Regions from separate parts of the Homo sapiens genome. Here region 2 is linked to region 1. The links come from fine-mapping of genetic effects on gene expression. Tissue or cell type: lung. Region 1 holds a variant in brackets; the other region holds the start of a gene. All regions are shown on one strand. Distances are from middle to middle.

Evidence for each region. PIP is the estimated chance that this variant, and not a neighbour inherited with it, causes the effect.
Region 2: it holds the start of PEMT, and the variant in region 1 is fine-mapped to the expression of PEMT in lung (TOPMed, PIP 0.94).

The regions. Positions count from the first base shown.
Region 1 is chr17:17,512,033-17,520,132 of GRCh38, reverse strand. PEMT (phosphatidylethanolamine N-methyltransferase) reads left to right here. Exons shown (of 7, transcript NM_148172.3): 4 at 7,479-7,624. Among named protein-coding and RNA genes, the nearest start is that of RASD1, 20 kb to the right of the region's middle. RefSeq lists enhancers at 2,185-3,054, 3,925-4,794, 5,665-6,534, 6,535-7,404. The variant C/T (reference allele first, on the strand shown) is at 3,248.
Region 2 is chr17:17,588,615-17,596,714 of GRCh38, reverse strand. PEMT (phosphatidylethanolamine N-methyltransferase) reads left to right here and starts at 5,007. Exons shown (of 7, transcript NM_148172.3): 1 at 5,007-5,184. The coding sequence starts at 5,089. RefSeq lists enhancers at 4,866-5,255, 4,821-5,562.

The sequences.
Region 1 (8,100 bases):
CCGACTGAACGCTCAGAGCTTGGAGTCCCCCCACAGGAACAGCGAGGCTGAAGACAGGTGGAGGGCTGCAGAGGGTTGAGACTCAGCCCAGGGCTGGCACGCTGAGCTGTTCCACCACTCCTGCTCCCTAGAGCATGCCGGGACCACCATCAGGGCCGGCACAAAGCAGGAGAAGTGGGCTGCAGCCCACAGCGCACACAGATCCAGGAGCAGCTAGACCAGGCCAGGTGACTGCCCAGAAACACCGGCCAGCGCCACAAGGCAGCTGCCTTGATGGAGCCCCTCCTGCCAGCCCTGCCCCGGGAGCTGCTCTGAGTCTCTGCTGAGTTCTGATTTCCTGCGCAATCTCATCTTGCACTAGAAACCCCAGAGGCTTCCTTGAGTCCTCCCCATCACCTCCCTGCTGGTCCAGCAGCACAGCCTGTGATCTGCCTGACCCTGGAGGTCTGCCCCCGTCATCCACCCCTTTTCAAGGCAGAGAGTAGAGGGCCCTGGAAGGGGTCATCCTTCCTCCTCCAGGCCCCAGCCGAGTGCTGTGTGTACCTAGGAGACCAGGGGGACAGGCCCACCCACAGCCCAGTTCCAGCCGTAGACAGCAGCAAAGCACTGTCTGGTTTGTTCTTGGATCCCGGGGCCTGGGAGTCCTCCTGGGGTAGCTGGAGGAAGTCAGCTTCTTACAGATGGTGGCTCCCAGCTTTCCCTCCTCTCATATCAGCGTTGGCCTCACCTGGCATCTGCCCAGCCAGCAGGGCCATGACTTTTGGTTGAACTGGCCACCCCTGGATTTTGGGGAGGAGAGAAAGGATGTCCTGGGCTGCTTTTCTCCTCTCACCTTTTGTGTTCAGAGGCAGAGGTGTGCCCTGGTCCTCACTCTCTCCCCCACTGTTCTTCCCCTCCAGGCCCCTGCCTGCACCCTATCCTGCCATGTCCCTGGTGACCCATCCTTCCCGCCCACACCTGCCAGTGTGAGGCACACAGGTGGCAGGTGCTGGAGCCGGACCGGGCTGTTGGGCCAGGCTCTGACAGGACCCTCGGGACCAGCTCCTGCATACCCCACACCCCCACACCCTTTCCCATGCATGCCTCGCTTCAGTGGCTGTCTAGAGGTGGGTATTCTTTTTTGTGCAGTAAAATAGACATAACATAAACTGTTATGAACCATTTTAAGCTTTACAATTCAGTGACATTTAGCAGCTTCCCGATGTTGTGCAGCCCTTCCTCCTGACTAGTTTCGGAGCTTTTTCCTCACCCTATAGGCCTGGAGCAGTCATCTCCCGCCCCCCAGTCCCTGGCAGCACTCGTCTGCTTTCTGTCCCCATGAGTGTGCCTGTTCTGGACCTTTGGGGTGTGGCATCGTTCTCCATGGGAGATGGCAAGCTTTGTGGGGTCCAGGCTGTGCTCAAAAGCCTCTGCACCCAGCAGGAGTCGGTTGGTGGGCAGAGAACACAGGCACGTGCTTGAGCCAAGCCTGGGTCATGGATGGGATGTCCGAGAGGCCACCAGCAGCTGACCTGCCAGCGGGTCCCAGGGGAGAGTAGGTCACTATGTTAGCAGGTCTGCACCAGCAGTGCATCCAGAGGTGGTCAGGGGAGGCCCGGGGCAGGATGAGCCACTGTTATCTGGAAGCAGGTGTGCTCCATCCAGTCCCGAAGGGGCCATTAGCACAGACCTGTTTGCTCTGGCTGTGGAGTGTGAATGGGGAGGAAGGCTGATGGGCTCCGGGGCACTTGTTGAAGTCCCTTGCCTGAGCTGCCCCCTGCACAGCTGAACTTGGCCAGCTTTGGCTGGACCGCTACCCTCTGATGAGCCACAAGGCTGGTCTCGAGAAAGCCCACGGGGGTGGGCGAGGCGTGGATGGCCAGGCAGGGCTCGAACGGGCTTCACAGGACTGGGCTGCAGCCCTTCCTCCCTCCTGGCTGTGGGAGGAGACAGCCGAGCTTGTTAGGGCATCAGCGAGCTCCTGGTGTCGTTCACCAGTCACGGGATGGAACTGTGCTCCAGCGCACATCGGAATTGCCTGGAGTCTCCCAGGGCTCCCTCTGGGTCTTCTGAGGGGAGAGGCTCCTGTGTGCTCTGGTGTGGCGGGCACAGCCAGGCTAAGAAGCTGCATCCTGGCCTCGGAGTGTGGCTGTCGATCAGGAATCTTCCTCAACCTGGAGGTATTCCCAGGCTGGGCTAGGAGGCACCTGGAGGGGCAGGGTGGTCTCTGGAAGGTGGTCTGGGTGGGTGGGGTGCAGGCGGAGCCCTGGCTGAAGAAGCCTTACGACCAAGGCCTGGAGGAGTGAGCCGGCTCTTCAGATGGCTGGGCAGGGCCCATGAGTCCCAGGAGAGGGCGGCCCCCACTCACAGGCTGGGCAGCAGGGGCAGGGCAGGTGGGGACTCACCTCAGCGCTCTGTATACTAGAGGCCGTGGGGCAGGTGCAACCCTGTGGGACACCAGACTCACCCCAGAGCCCCTCTCCCCTAGGGAAGTCTGTTTTCAAAAACTCCCTGATGATTCTGAGGCCAGGCCTTTGGGGACTGTGGCCCTGGAGGAGGCTGGCACAGGTGGCCCTCTGTCCTGGTGACTACATGTCCTGGTCACTGCTGCATCCCACCCAGTGCCTGGCCGGACCTGCTCAAGGATGTGGTCAGGACAGGCCGGGGGTTGAGCGGCTGCATGAAGGAGGGAGGGCATGGAGCTGATGGGACAGTTTGCTTCCGATGGAGCAATGGAGGGCTGGGCGTGTGCAGCGTTCCATGGCAGAAAAAAGCGACTCCTGCTGTCTTGGCAGAACAGGCCAGAATTTTTAAAGAGTCTGTGGACTGGGAAGCCAAGTGTATTAGTTTCCTTCTGCTGTGTAACAAATTCCCACACACTTAGGGCTTAAACCACACAAACTTACTATGTGACAGTTTCTGTGTCCAGGAGGCTGGATGCGGGGGCGGGGTCTTTGCTTAGGGACTCCCCAGGCTGGAATCAAGGTGCCTGCTGGGTGTGAGCTCACCCAAGGCGTGGTCCTCCACTCTTTCGGGTTGCTGGCAGGACGCGGGTCCTTGAGGCCCAGCTCCTGGTGGCCTCCCCGCAGCACAGCAGGCAGCTCTGTGGCTTTGGCTTTTGGTCTCTCTGGCTTCTAGACCCTTTTGGAAAGGCCTACCCAGGGTCACCTCCCTTTTGATTAACTCAAGGCCAGCTGATTAGGACCTGAATTCTATTTGTGAAATCCCTTCACCAGAGTGATTTCCTCGAGGCAGGTGCCTGGGGTAG[C/T]CACTGGGCGGGGTCCATGAGGGCAGCTGGAGAGTAAGGGGTGGGGGGACACTTAGGACAGGGAAGCTGGCATAGGCTTTCCTGGGCACAAGGGCCCCCAGCTGCTGGGAAGGAAGGAGGGAGAGGGGCTGCAGTTCGGCAAGAGTGGGTCCAGGCCCTGGTAGACCAGGCTGGTCTGGCACCTGAGGGGCTGTGGCTGGGAAGGAGGGAAGAGGCACCCTCCCCATCCCCAAAGCACACACGGCCAGGAAGTCTGGAAGGAGAGTGGGTGTCAGCCTGGGATTCCCAGGTGCTAGGGGTGCTGGGATACTGCTGCCTGTTGTCCTTGGCCTGCCCGTGAGGCTTGAGCCTATCCCACTGTTTACAGGTCGTGAGGAGGCAGGAGAGCCATCCTGCCCCTCCTGCTTTCTACCATCTGCTTCCCTGTTTGTAAAACAAGACAGACTCTCTCTCAGCTATTGATGGGTTCTGGAAACACTTTGGAAAGGTGACGTGTTATTCAAATGCTCAGAATTAGTGCAGCGTCAAAGCCCGAAATTCAAGCCCTTTGATGGTCTCGGGGGTTGCATAGATGAACATTTTTTGTTTTAGTAGTTACATGCTTATTTTAATATGTCTTGGAAAAGAAATGAGCCCATCAGACGACTCATTTCATGGCTAGCGTCGTGTAGCTGAGATGGAGTGGAAAGAGCGAGTCACTCCAAGCCTGGGGTGAAGGATGTGGAGTACATGGCACTCAGGCCACACATGGATGTGGACGACGTTGCGGAGACACCCCAGGATGATCAAAGTCAGGGAAGTGTTTCTGGTCGGCTGCAGATAGAAACGGGACAGGCCTGTCCCAGGTGGGGCCGTGTGCCTCTGGCCTGGTGTGTGGCCCAGGACTGCTGGCTGGGGACAGGGCGGGGACACTGAGGGCAGTGATGCCCCCTCCCCACCTCCACCCCAGGGTTTCCGGGATTTTATGGGAGCAGAGTGCAGACAGCCTCAAATCACATTAATGACTGAAGGTTCAATCCAGGTCTTAAAAATAGAACCCAAGGCAAATGAATGAGTCTCCGTTCCCCACCCCTAGTGCGGAATACTTCCAAGGGAAATTGCGTCCTATATTACCTCATTCTGTTAGGGAGCTTGTGGTCACAGAGCTACTCATCCATCCACTAATTTTCCCTGTGGAATGGACGGACTGTGCTTTCCTGGCTTAATGGAGGAGCTAGAACACTGTCGATTGCCTAATTCGGGCCATGAGATTCCAGTAAACCTGGAATCTAGAATCAGAGTGTATTTGACTGGGTAAGGGGCCACTTGGTGAGAACGCCAGGGAGGAGCTCAGCCCAGTTCCTCTGCCGACTCTGAGCAAATGACCCACAGAGCATTGTGCCAGGAGCCAGCCCAGGCTGTCATCTCAGAGAAAGGAAAGGAAAGGCCCCAGGACTGGGGCCGTAGGCGGAGGAGCAGCTGGGGGACTGAGGGTCAGGTCTGGGGCAAATCTGGGGCCTCTCCCACCCGCTCCCTGGCCCCGGATCTGCCCTTCATCAGGAATCTGCTTCCAAGCAGATCTGATTTGCCTACTGAGCCATGCCCCCAGGGAAGCTGGGCCCTGAATGAGCTGGGCTTTTGGGCCACACCAGAGGGAGGAAGTTCCCTTTCATCTGCTGCCTGCTTGTGTGATGCAGATGAATTCTGGCAGAGGAACCCTGAGCATGGGGTATGGACCCAGGCCTGGCTCGGGTCTCCGCAGGAGGGGGTAAGAGCGACAGAGTCTCCGTCCAGAGTGACCCTCCAGCGTCTCGGGCCTGGCCTCTGCGCCCACCCCCTATTGCAGCACCTGGATGGGTCTCCCTGGTTCTGCATTTTCCACAGCAGGCAGAGTGCATTCCAAACCCTGCCGGGCCGAGGCCTGCACCTTCCCTGCTCCATGCCCTGCCCCAGACTCTAAGGCACACCTCCCTGCTATTTCCTCTTTCTGGAATGCTCTCCCCTGTTCGCCCCTCCCAACCCCTGTCTGTTTTCTGGTCCCCACTGCAGTGGCAGCCAAGGAGCCAGATGCTTGCAGGGGAGCCATGCTCCTGAGCAGGGCCGGCACCCTTCCTTTCCCTCCCACTCCACCATCTGCAGGCAGGAGAGTGGAGGGTGCCAGGCAGGGGAGAAGGTGTGCCTGGATCGTGGCACCACACTGGGTGTGCATGTGGCCACCTGATTCCATGGCAGCCCGTGACCCTGAGCCAATCCCAGAGGCTCGGCCTGGAGCTGCGGGGTGACCCTGAGCCCGGGCAGCAGCAGGATCAGGGCAGGGCACTGGTGGGTGGAGAGCTGGGGGTATGGGCAGCATGACCGGCAGTGGGTTTGCCCTGACACCCGAATGCCGCTGTTTAACAGGTCGGTGTGCCCGCCTCTGCCACCGGGTCCTGGTGGCTTTGTCCACAGGCCCTTCTCCCTTTCTCCCTGGCTCCTTCTCTGCTCTTGGGGATGGGAGGAGAAGGAAGGAGCGGCTACTGCTTCTCTCCAGTCGATGAATATGCACTAAACATCCATTCTGTGGCCTGGGCCAAGTGCTGGGGGGATACGCAGGGAAGGAGGAGCAACTTCTGTTCCCCAAGAGCTCCCAGTCAAGCTGGAGGAAGGAGTTCCAGGGAGGCATAAAGACATGTCTGTATGTCCTTAGCTCAGCATAAGGAGTTTCACAACAATCTGAATTCACCAATGAATGGAACGAGTGGATGAAGATGGGGGCTTCAATCTGCTTGAAAGAGCCTAGCAAACAAAGATACTTCATGGTGGATGGATGGATGGTTGTGTGGGCAGATAGAGGATACATTGATGGATGGAAGGATGGATAGCTGGACAGATGGATGGATGTGTGGGTGCATAGAGGATAGATGGATGGAGGAAGGATGGGTGGTGGGGTGGATGGTAAGCTGGCCCTGCTGGGAGATGCCGTCTACAGACTGGGTGTGAAAGGCGCTGCCCTGCGTGAGGTAGCAGATCTCCATGTCTCTTCTGTGTTGTGATTATTGTGAGCATGGGAAGAGCACATTTGGTCACACATGTCCGTGCTCCCACACACAGCCTTTCCTGTGAGTGTGCCTCTCATCTAGCACCCAGGGCCCCCTTCCCACCAGCGCCCGCTCCCCTGTGATGAGGCCTGGGTACATCAGCACATGCCTAGCCCCTGTGCCCTCCCTGCACCAGCCCCTCAGTTCTCCGGAGCCAACTGGAGAACCTGAGCCTCTAGACCCACTGCTGTCATAGTCACCCCCTTTTGGTCACGCCACTGCCTTTTCTTTTTTTCTTTTTTCTTTTGATACTAAGTCTCGCTCTATTGCCCAGGCTGGAGTGCAGTGGTGTGCAAACTCCGCCTCCTGGGTTCAAGCGATTCTTGTGCCCCAGCCTCTCAAGTAGCTGGGATTCCAGGTGCCCACCACCACACCCAGCTAATTTTTGTATTTTGGGTAGAGACAGGGTTTCACCATGTTGGCCAGGCTGGTCTTGAACTCCTGACCTCAGGTGACCCGCCCACCTCGGCCTCCCAAAGTGCTGGGATTGCAGGCGTGAGCCACCACACCTGGACCCCACTACCTTTTTACAAGGCCTTCAGTGGTTTGGCCCCAAAGGGAGCCTAGTGGGGGAATTCAGGTGTGGAGGAGGACATTAAGGGCCCCCAAAGTGCCTTTAAATGCAAGTCAAGCCACCCAGGATGTGGCCAGACCCACAGGGGCTGTGGAAGCGCAATCCCTAGCACAGAGCATGCCCCAGGCCTCGGGGCACTGAGTCTGTTGGGGAATGGGACACCTGGGCCTGCCCTGCAACCTGGCACCTGCGTCTTTCCTGAGCCTCACTTTCCTCCATAGTATGAGTTGCTCATTGGACAGGATGAGAGTTTGCAAGCTGGTGGCCTTCGGGCTGAATCCAGCCTGCTCACATGCAGGGTCTAAAGTGGCTTTCATGAATTGTCTATTTCTAAAAATTAGGATATTTCACATACGAGTCAGGATTTCTGGCTTCTCTTGAAAAAATTTAAAAATCTGACAGGCCTGGGCCCCTCCCTGTTACTGTCACCCACCTCCCAGGTGGACTGGACCCCACCTGCTGCCTGCCTGGCCTGGCAGCCCTGGGCTGGCTACTCTCTAAGGGTCCCTGGGGAGAGGGCGAGAAGATGAGGTCGGCCTCCTCCCGGGCTGTGACATCCTCCCTGGCCATGACGTCCTCCCTCTCCATCCCCTGCCCACAGCTTCACGCAGGCCATGCTGAGCCAGCCCAGGATGGAGAGCCTGGACACCCCCGCGGCCTACAGCCTGGGCCTCGCGCTCCTGGGACTGGGCGTCGTGCTCGTGCTCTCCAGCTTCTTTGCACTGGGGTTCGCTGGAACTTTCCTAGGTAAGACCCTGAGGGCTGGGGTGACCCTGAGCAGGACCGCTGGAGCCCCAGGGAGGTGCAGGGCCAGGTGGCTGCTGCCCTGCTATCCGTGACATCGGTGGGAGTGCTAGGGGCCCCCTCCATCGGGGCGTCTTTGCTCCTCCAGGCCTGGCTTGTCTGTGGTTAGAACAGGAGGCTGGGCTCCAACAGCTCCTCTTACCCCAGCGTGCTGAGCGGCTGCCTCCTGGGGAGTGAAGGCAGCTCCTGCTGCTTCTCTCCAGCTAATGAAGATGCACTCAATGCCCGTTCTGCGGCCCGGGCTGGGTGCAGGACTCCTTGAGTCCAGCTCCAGCACCAGCTCCCCCTTGCAGAAGACTCTCAGGCCTTGTTGCACAGAAGCCTGAGGTGGTGGTGAGTCAGCCACCTCTCTGGCAGCTCCCGGCACGCGTGGCTCTCAGGCCAGGCAGGATTGTGGTTTGTGCCGTGTTTGGCCGCAG
Region 2 (8,100 bases), 77 kb before region 1:
AAAAAAAGACATCCCTGCCCTTAGCCGGGCATGGTGGCATGCACTTGTAGTCTCAGCTATTCCGGAGACTGAGTCAGGAGGATCGCTTGGGCCCAGGATTTTAAACCCAGGGGTCTCTTAAAAAAAAAAAAAAAAGCCAGGGGTGGTGGCTTATGCCTGTAATCCCAGCACTTTGGGAGGCTGAGGCAGGTGGATCACCTGATGTCAGGAGTTTGAGACCAGCCTGGCCAATATAGTGAAACCCTGTCTCTACTAAAAAATAGAAAAATTAGCTGGGTGTGGTGGTGCGCACCTGTAGTCCCAGCTACTCCAGAGGCTGAGGCAGGACAATTGCTGGAACCCGGGAGGCAGAGGTTGCAGTGAGCCGAGATCACGTCACTGCACTCTAGCCTGGGCGACAGAGCAAGACTCCGTCTCAAAAAACAAACAAACAAAAAATCTCTGCCCTGGTGAAGTTCCCCTTATAGGGGATAGGGGATGGACAGGGAATGACACTATACAAAATAAATAAGTGCACTAAATACATTTGTTAAATGATATGGCCAATGGAGAGAAATAAAGTTGGGAGAGGCCCATGGCGAGCATGGGGAAGTCAGCATGTTCAACAGGGTGGAGAGGTGGAACTTGAGCAGAACCCAGAGGAGGTGAGGAGGGTACTGGGAGGAAATGCGGGGAAGAGCAACCCAGGCGGAGGACATAGCACATGAAAATGCCCTGTGGTGGGTGTATACCTGGGGTGTTTAGGACCTCTGGAGGCCAGCTGGAAGGCAGGGGTTTGTGCTCTGTGGACACTGTGGACACTGAGGGGCAGTGAGGCCCTGCCAGCACCAACATCCTTGCTGGTGTTTCCCAGGCTGGCCTAGGCTGTGGACAACTGGGTTCAGGTAACTTCACTCCCGTGCCCTCTTCCCAGCAAGTAGTAGGTCCTTGGGGAAGGGGCTTCTTCCAAAGCTCAGGGCAGATGGGAGTGGGGAGGGAACTCGTGATCAGGGCACACATCTCCAGATGACCTCTCCCCTGCCCCAGTTCCCACCCTGGCTACCCTCTTGTTCCTGGAGCCACCAGGGGTAGAATGAGGGCAATCAGGCCTGAGTCTATGAAGTGGGTGCTGGGCATTGCGGCCACAGCCCCTCACCACCTTCCTGGTTTTAAAGCACTCCCAGTGACAATATGGTTTCTGATAACCTGCAGTACCTGCTGTCTGGGGAGCAGCTCTGGCCACCCATCCTGGCCCCTGCCCACCCATCTCCTCCCAGGAACTCTGGCAGGTCCCTGAGCTGTCAGCCAGCTCTCCTGGCCCCCAGTGGTGTCCTAAATCCCAGCAGCATGTCCATGAGTGTGACCTTAACCACCAGATCTCAATTATATAGAAAGGAGAGAAACATTTTTTTCTTTCTTTTTTTTTGGAGACAGGGTCTCACTCTCGTCACTTAGGCTGGAGTACAGTGGCACAATCACAGCTCCCTGAAGTCTCTCTCTCCTGGGCTCAAGTGATCCTGCCGCTTTAGTTTCCCGAGTAGCTGGGAGTACAGGCACGTGCACCACACCCGGCTAATTTTTTTTTGGTATTTTTTTTTGTAGAGATGGGGTTTTGCCATGTTGCCCAGGCTTGTCTCGAATTCCTGGGCTCATGCAATCTGCCTGCCTTGGCCTCCCAGAGTGCTGAGATTACAGGCATGAACCACTGCGCCTGGCCTGGACATTTTCTTAGAACCCACTGTATGCCAGGCACTTTTGTACGAGTTATTACCTCTAATCCTCACAACAGCCTCACTCGAGATATTATACTCAAGAGATATTCTATGATATAAATATTATTATGTTTTATGAACAGAAAATAGATTCAGAGTAGGGAAAGGTTTAGGTTTTACCCAAAGGCACCCAATAAACACATGTTAATTTTAGCACTAAAACCCCATTTTAATGATTGCTGGGAGTTTCTGCAGCCTGATTCATAATTCAGGAGCCAGGGAGGTGGGGTTAGAGAAAAGAGAGGCCATCAGGAGGTTTGCCCTGGGAGCTGTTCCATGATAAATGGTTTCCTATATCTGAAGAGCTCAATCAAGGGGCAAAGAGAGATAACCCTGAAGGTAGAAAGGAACTTTTGTTTGTTAAAGCTTCAGGAAGGGTGACTTTGGGTTAATGGGTATCATGACTTTGGGTTAATGGACCCCTGTCCATCAGTGGAGCGGGCGACCTCAAGAGGTGGGGAACCTCTCATCACTGGCGGCACGTAAGCAGAACCAACTTTTCCATTTGCCCAAGATGCCACAGAAGGAATGTTTCAGTGAGGGAGGTTGGCCTGGATAATTTCTCTACAAGCTCTCAGACTTGGGAACTTTTGAAAGGCTCAGGCAAGTACTTGTGCCCCAAAGTATCTTTGGCAGGGTTTTTTATTTTTATTTTTTTAGATGGAATCTCTGTCGCCCAGGCTGGAGTGCAGTGGTGCAATCTCGGCTCACTGCAACCTCCACCTCCCAGGTTCAAGTGATTCTCCTGCCTCAGCCTCCTTAGTAGCTAGGATCACAGGTGTGCACCACCATGCCTGGCTAATTTTTGTATTTTTAGTAGAGACGGGGTTTCACCATGCTGGCCAGGCTGGTCTCGAACTCCTGACCTCGTGATCTGCCCGCCTTGGCCTCCCAAAGTGCTGGGATTCCAGGCGTGAGCCACCATGCCCAGCCTGGCCCAGGCTGGAGTGCAGTGGCGCGATCTCGGCTCACTGCAGCCTCCACCTCCTGGGTTCAAGCAATTCTCCTGACTCAGCCTCCTGAGTAGCTGGGATTACAAGTGTGCACCACCATGCCTAGCTAATTTTTGTATTTTTAGTGGAGACGGGGTTTCACTGTGTTGGTCAGGCTGGTCTTGAACTCCTGACCTCATGATCCGCCTGCCTCGGCCTCCCAAAGTGCTGGGATTCCAGGTGTGAGCCAGGCAGGAGGTTTTTATCTGACTTGTTTCAAGCTGCAAGTCTGTCTCCTGGGTGGGGTGTTTGCTTTTCACAGAGGAAGGGTGGCCCAGGTTGGGTAGGCTGGAGTAGAGGATCGGACTGCATCAGTTCTGGTGTGACCTCTTACGGTTGCCTTACTTTGTTCTCAGATAAAGCAAACGCACAAAAATTTGTTTTCTGGGCTTAACAAAACAGGAGTGACCAGTTAGGTCAGAAGACTGGAACATCAGTGAAGTGGATGTGTGGTAGGCGGAGGGGAAAGACTTGCTAGAAGCCCTCCCGCTGCGGGGGGCTCCTTCAGAAATGGCTCTGCCTCTAGCAGCTCTGCCTGGACACTGAGCAGGGAAAGGGTCCCGACACTCATTAGTAACAGTGGTAAGTCAGAGAACCAGCCCTGAGCCTGTGTCCCCAGCCCTGCCGGGGGCCAATGCCTACTGAGCACTTCCCACAGGCCAGTTCCTGGGTGATGAGTTTTACCAACATGTATTTCCCTTTTACTTTTGAGGAAAATGAAGGTGGGCTCAGTCACAGAGATAGTGCATGCTCCAAAGCCAGTGTCTTTCCTGTCTCCTCGGTTGGCCTGCCCCATCCTAGCGATGTTGTGAAGATTGGGACTACCTCTAAAGCAGCACACAGTGGCTGCTCAGTAAATGCTCAACACTGGTAGGTGCTGTGGGCCAAGGTGGAGAGAAACGGGCCATCTGGAGCAGGAAGCAGCTGACTGCAGAAGTCCTGTCTGGGCCCCCAGCAGTCTGGGTGACTGAGCAAATCTTGGAACCTCTCAGTCTATTTCCCCATATTACATAACACCTGGCTACAAAAGGGCTTTTTTCTTTTTTGAGAGGGAGTCTCGCTCTGTCGCGCAGGCTGGCATGCAATGGCACCATCTCCGCTCACTGCAACCTCCACCTCCTGGGTTCAAGCGATTCTCCTGCCTCAGCCTCCTGAGTAGCTGGGATTACAGGTGCGCGCACCACACCCGGCTATTTTTTGTATTTTTAATAGAGACGGGGTTTCACCGTGTTAGTCACGCTGGTCTCGAACTGCCGACCTCTGGTGATCCGCCCACCTCGGCCTCCCAAAGTGCTGGGATTACAGGCATGAGCCACCACACCCGGCCTACAAAAGGGGTTCTTCTGGGACCCGATCGTCTAAACTCTTCTCCATTTGACCCCCTCCATCACTACTCCACAGCTCACCGGTCTTTTCTCTGTTCCTTAGGTGCCCGTCCTGTCTCCAGGCCTTTGTACATACCATTCGTCTTGCCTTGTTTGCCCTGCCCTCACACTTGGCACATCTGGCACCTCCCCTGCACATTCTAAGACAGCATCCTTCCGTACCATTTGACCCACCCCGTTTTTTCCACCACAGTACTCATCCATATTATAACCCTTTATTCACATTTTGTCTTTTATCTCAGTCAGGAGGAAGCGAGGGCGGGGGACTCTGTGTTGTTCCCTACCGTACCCTCAGCGCACAGTCTGGTTCAGAAAATACTCGAGAGTGAATGAGAGAATGAATGAAGGAAAAAATGAGTGGAGGAGGGGTCTTTGGCCGAGCTAAAGAGCCTGGGCGCCGCGGGGGCGGGAAGCTCTAGGCAGTGCTCGTCGCGCACCGCCCCCAGAGTAAAGCGAATTTCAGAAGAGGGCGTGGGGCCCTGGGCGTGTGGGGCCCTGGGCGTGTGTGACCCGGGCCAAGTCCAAGTCCGCAGGAGGCTGCGCGGGAAGCTGCTTATAGCTACGACCCGCGGCCCCCGGCCTCTAGCCCCACCGCCGCCAGGCAAGGGCAGGGACGCCAGGTCAGTTACAGGCTCGGGTGCGGCAGCCGGCGACCAAAGGCACTGGGCGGGAGGCCGGATCCAAGGGGATACTGCTACGTAGCTGCAGCGGAACCGGCAGGCTCTGCGGCGAAACACACTGGGACTTGTAGTTCTCGGCTCCTCTAGACGCTGTCGCGAGCCCCCAGATAAAGAGGCACTTCGCGGTGACGGGGAACTACATTTCCCAGAAGGCCGGAATATGTTGGGGGTCACCGGGAAAGCGCCCCGACTGGCGGCACTTACCCGGCTCTATAGGTCCGGTTCCGGGGGCGCGTGGCTGCAGCGGGGCCCGCGTGGTGCCTCCTGAGGCGGCCCCCGGATGAAGAGATCTGGGAACCCGGGAGCCGAGGTAACGAACAGCTCGGTGGCAGGGCCTGACTGCTGCGGAGGCCTCGGCAATATTGATTTTAGACAGGTACTGACCGCACCGGACCGCCGCGGAAACTGGGAGAGGGATCTGCAAGGCCCGAGGGGCGTGAAGGCTTGCGGCGCCTCAAACGCTGCGGGGCGGGGCCGCCAGTTCCCAGGCAATGGGGGCGTGGCGTGGCGGGGGTGGGGGAGCCGCGTGCGGGAGCGCCGGCTGGTGTCTGTGTGTGTGCGTGTGCGCGCGCGTGTAAACCTCAGATTGCGTGTGTCAGAGACGGGGGCGTTCCTGAGCTCGTCTGATTGTGTGCCTGTGTGTGGCCCTGAGATTGTGTGAGACTCAGAGGTTGTCCGTGTTAGTCTTTGGGATTGTGTCTCACTGAAATTATGTGATGCTCTGAGAGTGTGCCGGAGAGTGAGTGTGAGTGTGTATGACCGAGGCTGTGTGTGACTGAGCGTGGGCGAGGGTGAAGGAGGCCGATTATATGTTTGGGAGTGTGTTGTGTGGCCCCTGCTCCCGTCCATCCCCCAGGGTCAGGAGGCCAGCTTTTGCCCAGAGGCAAGAGAGTGGTGGGGACCCTGCCTGTCTCCCAGCCGGCCCTGGGCAGGCTGCAGACCACCACCCAGCCGTTTCGGGGCCATAATGGGTGCGACCGGCCCCAGAAGCTGGGGGCCTGGCTTGCCTGCTGAGGCTGCCCTCTGCAGAGTCCTAGGCCAGAGAGTGCCTGTCCTGGCATCTCCCCAGGCTCCCAATTCCAATGGATTCCAATTTCCAACCTCTCTTGCATTCTCCCTTCTATCAAAGCTTCCTCTTAGATGCTCCATTTACCTTTTTCATCACCCACTCTTCATGAAGCCTGTAAGGCACATCTCTGCCCCAAGCAGCTTCTAATCCAGTTCTTTCGCTCCCTTCATTCCTTACTCACATGTGCATTTATTCACTCACTGATCCAGCCAGTATTGATTCAGGGCCGGCTGAGGGCCTCGTGTCACTCAGAAGTTTAAGGGCACTTCTGTCACTGAGCTTTCATTCTAGGGAGGGAGATTGTAGGCCTGGAAAGCCAGAGAGTTCTCTGAAGGAGCTAATACCAGTTAGTGTTTTGAAGAGTAGCTGATGGGAAGGCGGGATTGAAATCCCAAGAGAGCCTGTTGCCGTATCTGCGAGGGAGGGACCTGGGATCTGAGAGCCGAAAGGTCAGTCAGTGGGGCAAGATTCCCCAGAGGAGGGAGGCAGTTGCGAAGCCCTCCAGGAGGCACAGGAGGAGATGGGCCGCTGGCCCTGAGGGAGCGCAGGACCGTTGGCCAGATGGGTGCTCAGCAGAGGACAGGAAGAAGACTATTACTTTAGTAAACTGTCCATTGAATTACAACATGCAGTCAGATGAGTGATGGGTCCTACCCCTACAGCTCCTGCATTTTCACCAGGTGAACCTGTATCTGTTAATCCTCAGATCAAGATGGGGGGTCATGATCACCTCCAGGGGCTGCCCTCAGAAGCCACCGTGTAGAAGGGTGGGTGGGGGAGCCATGTAGAAGGGGGGGCAGAATGCAAGGGGGCAGTGTCCCTTTGCAGACCCATCTAGGGGCCTGCCCCAGGGCCTGCCAGTGGGCAGGGGAGACTAACCGGGTGTGTGAGGGGTGGGCTTCTCTGCTCTTTCTCCTTTCTCCCCAGGGCTGTGCAGCTGGAGAGAGCTGGGGCTGGGGTTCGGGTCAGGGTGACCCTTGTTGACTAACATTCTGCTTTTCTTCTGCTGTCCTTGTTGGTGCAGTTAAGCTTCCTGTTGCCAAGGGATTTTTCTTAAAGAAAGAAAGAAAGAAACATACAACATACAACATTACATATTTGCTTATGTGGTAGCTCTACTCCCTCCTCAATCAAAATCTCCGGTTTTAAAATATGTCAGTCCCTGGCCTGGGAGAGTTGCAAGGTTTTTGTTCACCCCATGGGCGTCTGAGCTGCAGGATCTCCGGTGCTAGCCCTGTGCTGCTGTGCTGTCCAGTAGAAACATCGTGTGCCACATGCATAATTTAAACCTTTCTAGTAGCCATGTTAAATTAGTGAGAAGAAATGGAAAATAGCAAAGAAATAGAAAAATAATTTTGACAATATATTTTATTGTTACCAAAATATATATCAGACATATTTTGTCCTGTGGCATTCCAAGCTTGTGGCACTGCCTGTGACCAGTGGCTGCCATGTCATACCAAACAGTGCTGCTCTGGGTACCATGCCCTCCACCAGCTCTTTTCTGGGCCTGCTTCAGCAGGTACAGAATCTTGCTTTTGTTTTTAAAAAAAAAAAAAAAAAAATCAGCTGTTGGGGCTGGGCACGGTGGCTCACGCCTGTAATCCCAGCACTCTGGGAGGCCAAAGCAGGTGGATCACCTGAGGTCGGGAGTTTGAGACCAGCCTGACCAACATGGAGAAATCCCATCTCTACTAAAAATATAAAAAGTTAGCCAGGCGTGGCGGCACATGCCTGTAATCCCAGCTACTCGGGAGGCTGAGGCAGGAGAATCACTTGAACCCCGTAGGTGGAGGTTGCAGTGAGCTGATATCACGCCATTGCACTCCAGCCTGGGCTAGAAGAGCGAAACTCTGTCTCAAAACAAAAACAAACAACCCAAAGAATCAGCCATTGGGCTGAGGAGTTAGGGTGAGGAGTGTGCCCGCTGCAGCCCCACTGACTAAGGCCCTTTTGCTCCTTGTTGCCCTCCCTGTCAGGATTCTGGAGCCTTGCTCCTCAGCTGGGCAGCTGCCTGAAGGCAGTGGGGTGGCAGATGGATGAGAGCAGGGTCTGCATCTTGCTGTCCACAGGCCGGGGCACCTCCAGGATTCAGAAGATGACTCCAGTAGGGCCTAGGGGTGCGGGCACCCAGGCTGGCAGAGCACACTGAGGTCCTCAGAGCAAGGGCACATGCCCAGGTCTCAGGTCCCTTTTCCATAGCGAATCACCTGCTCACCAGAG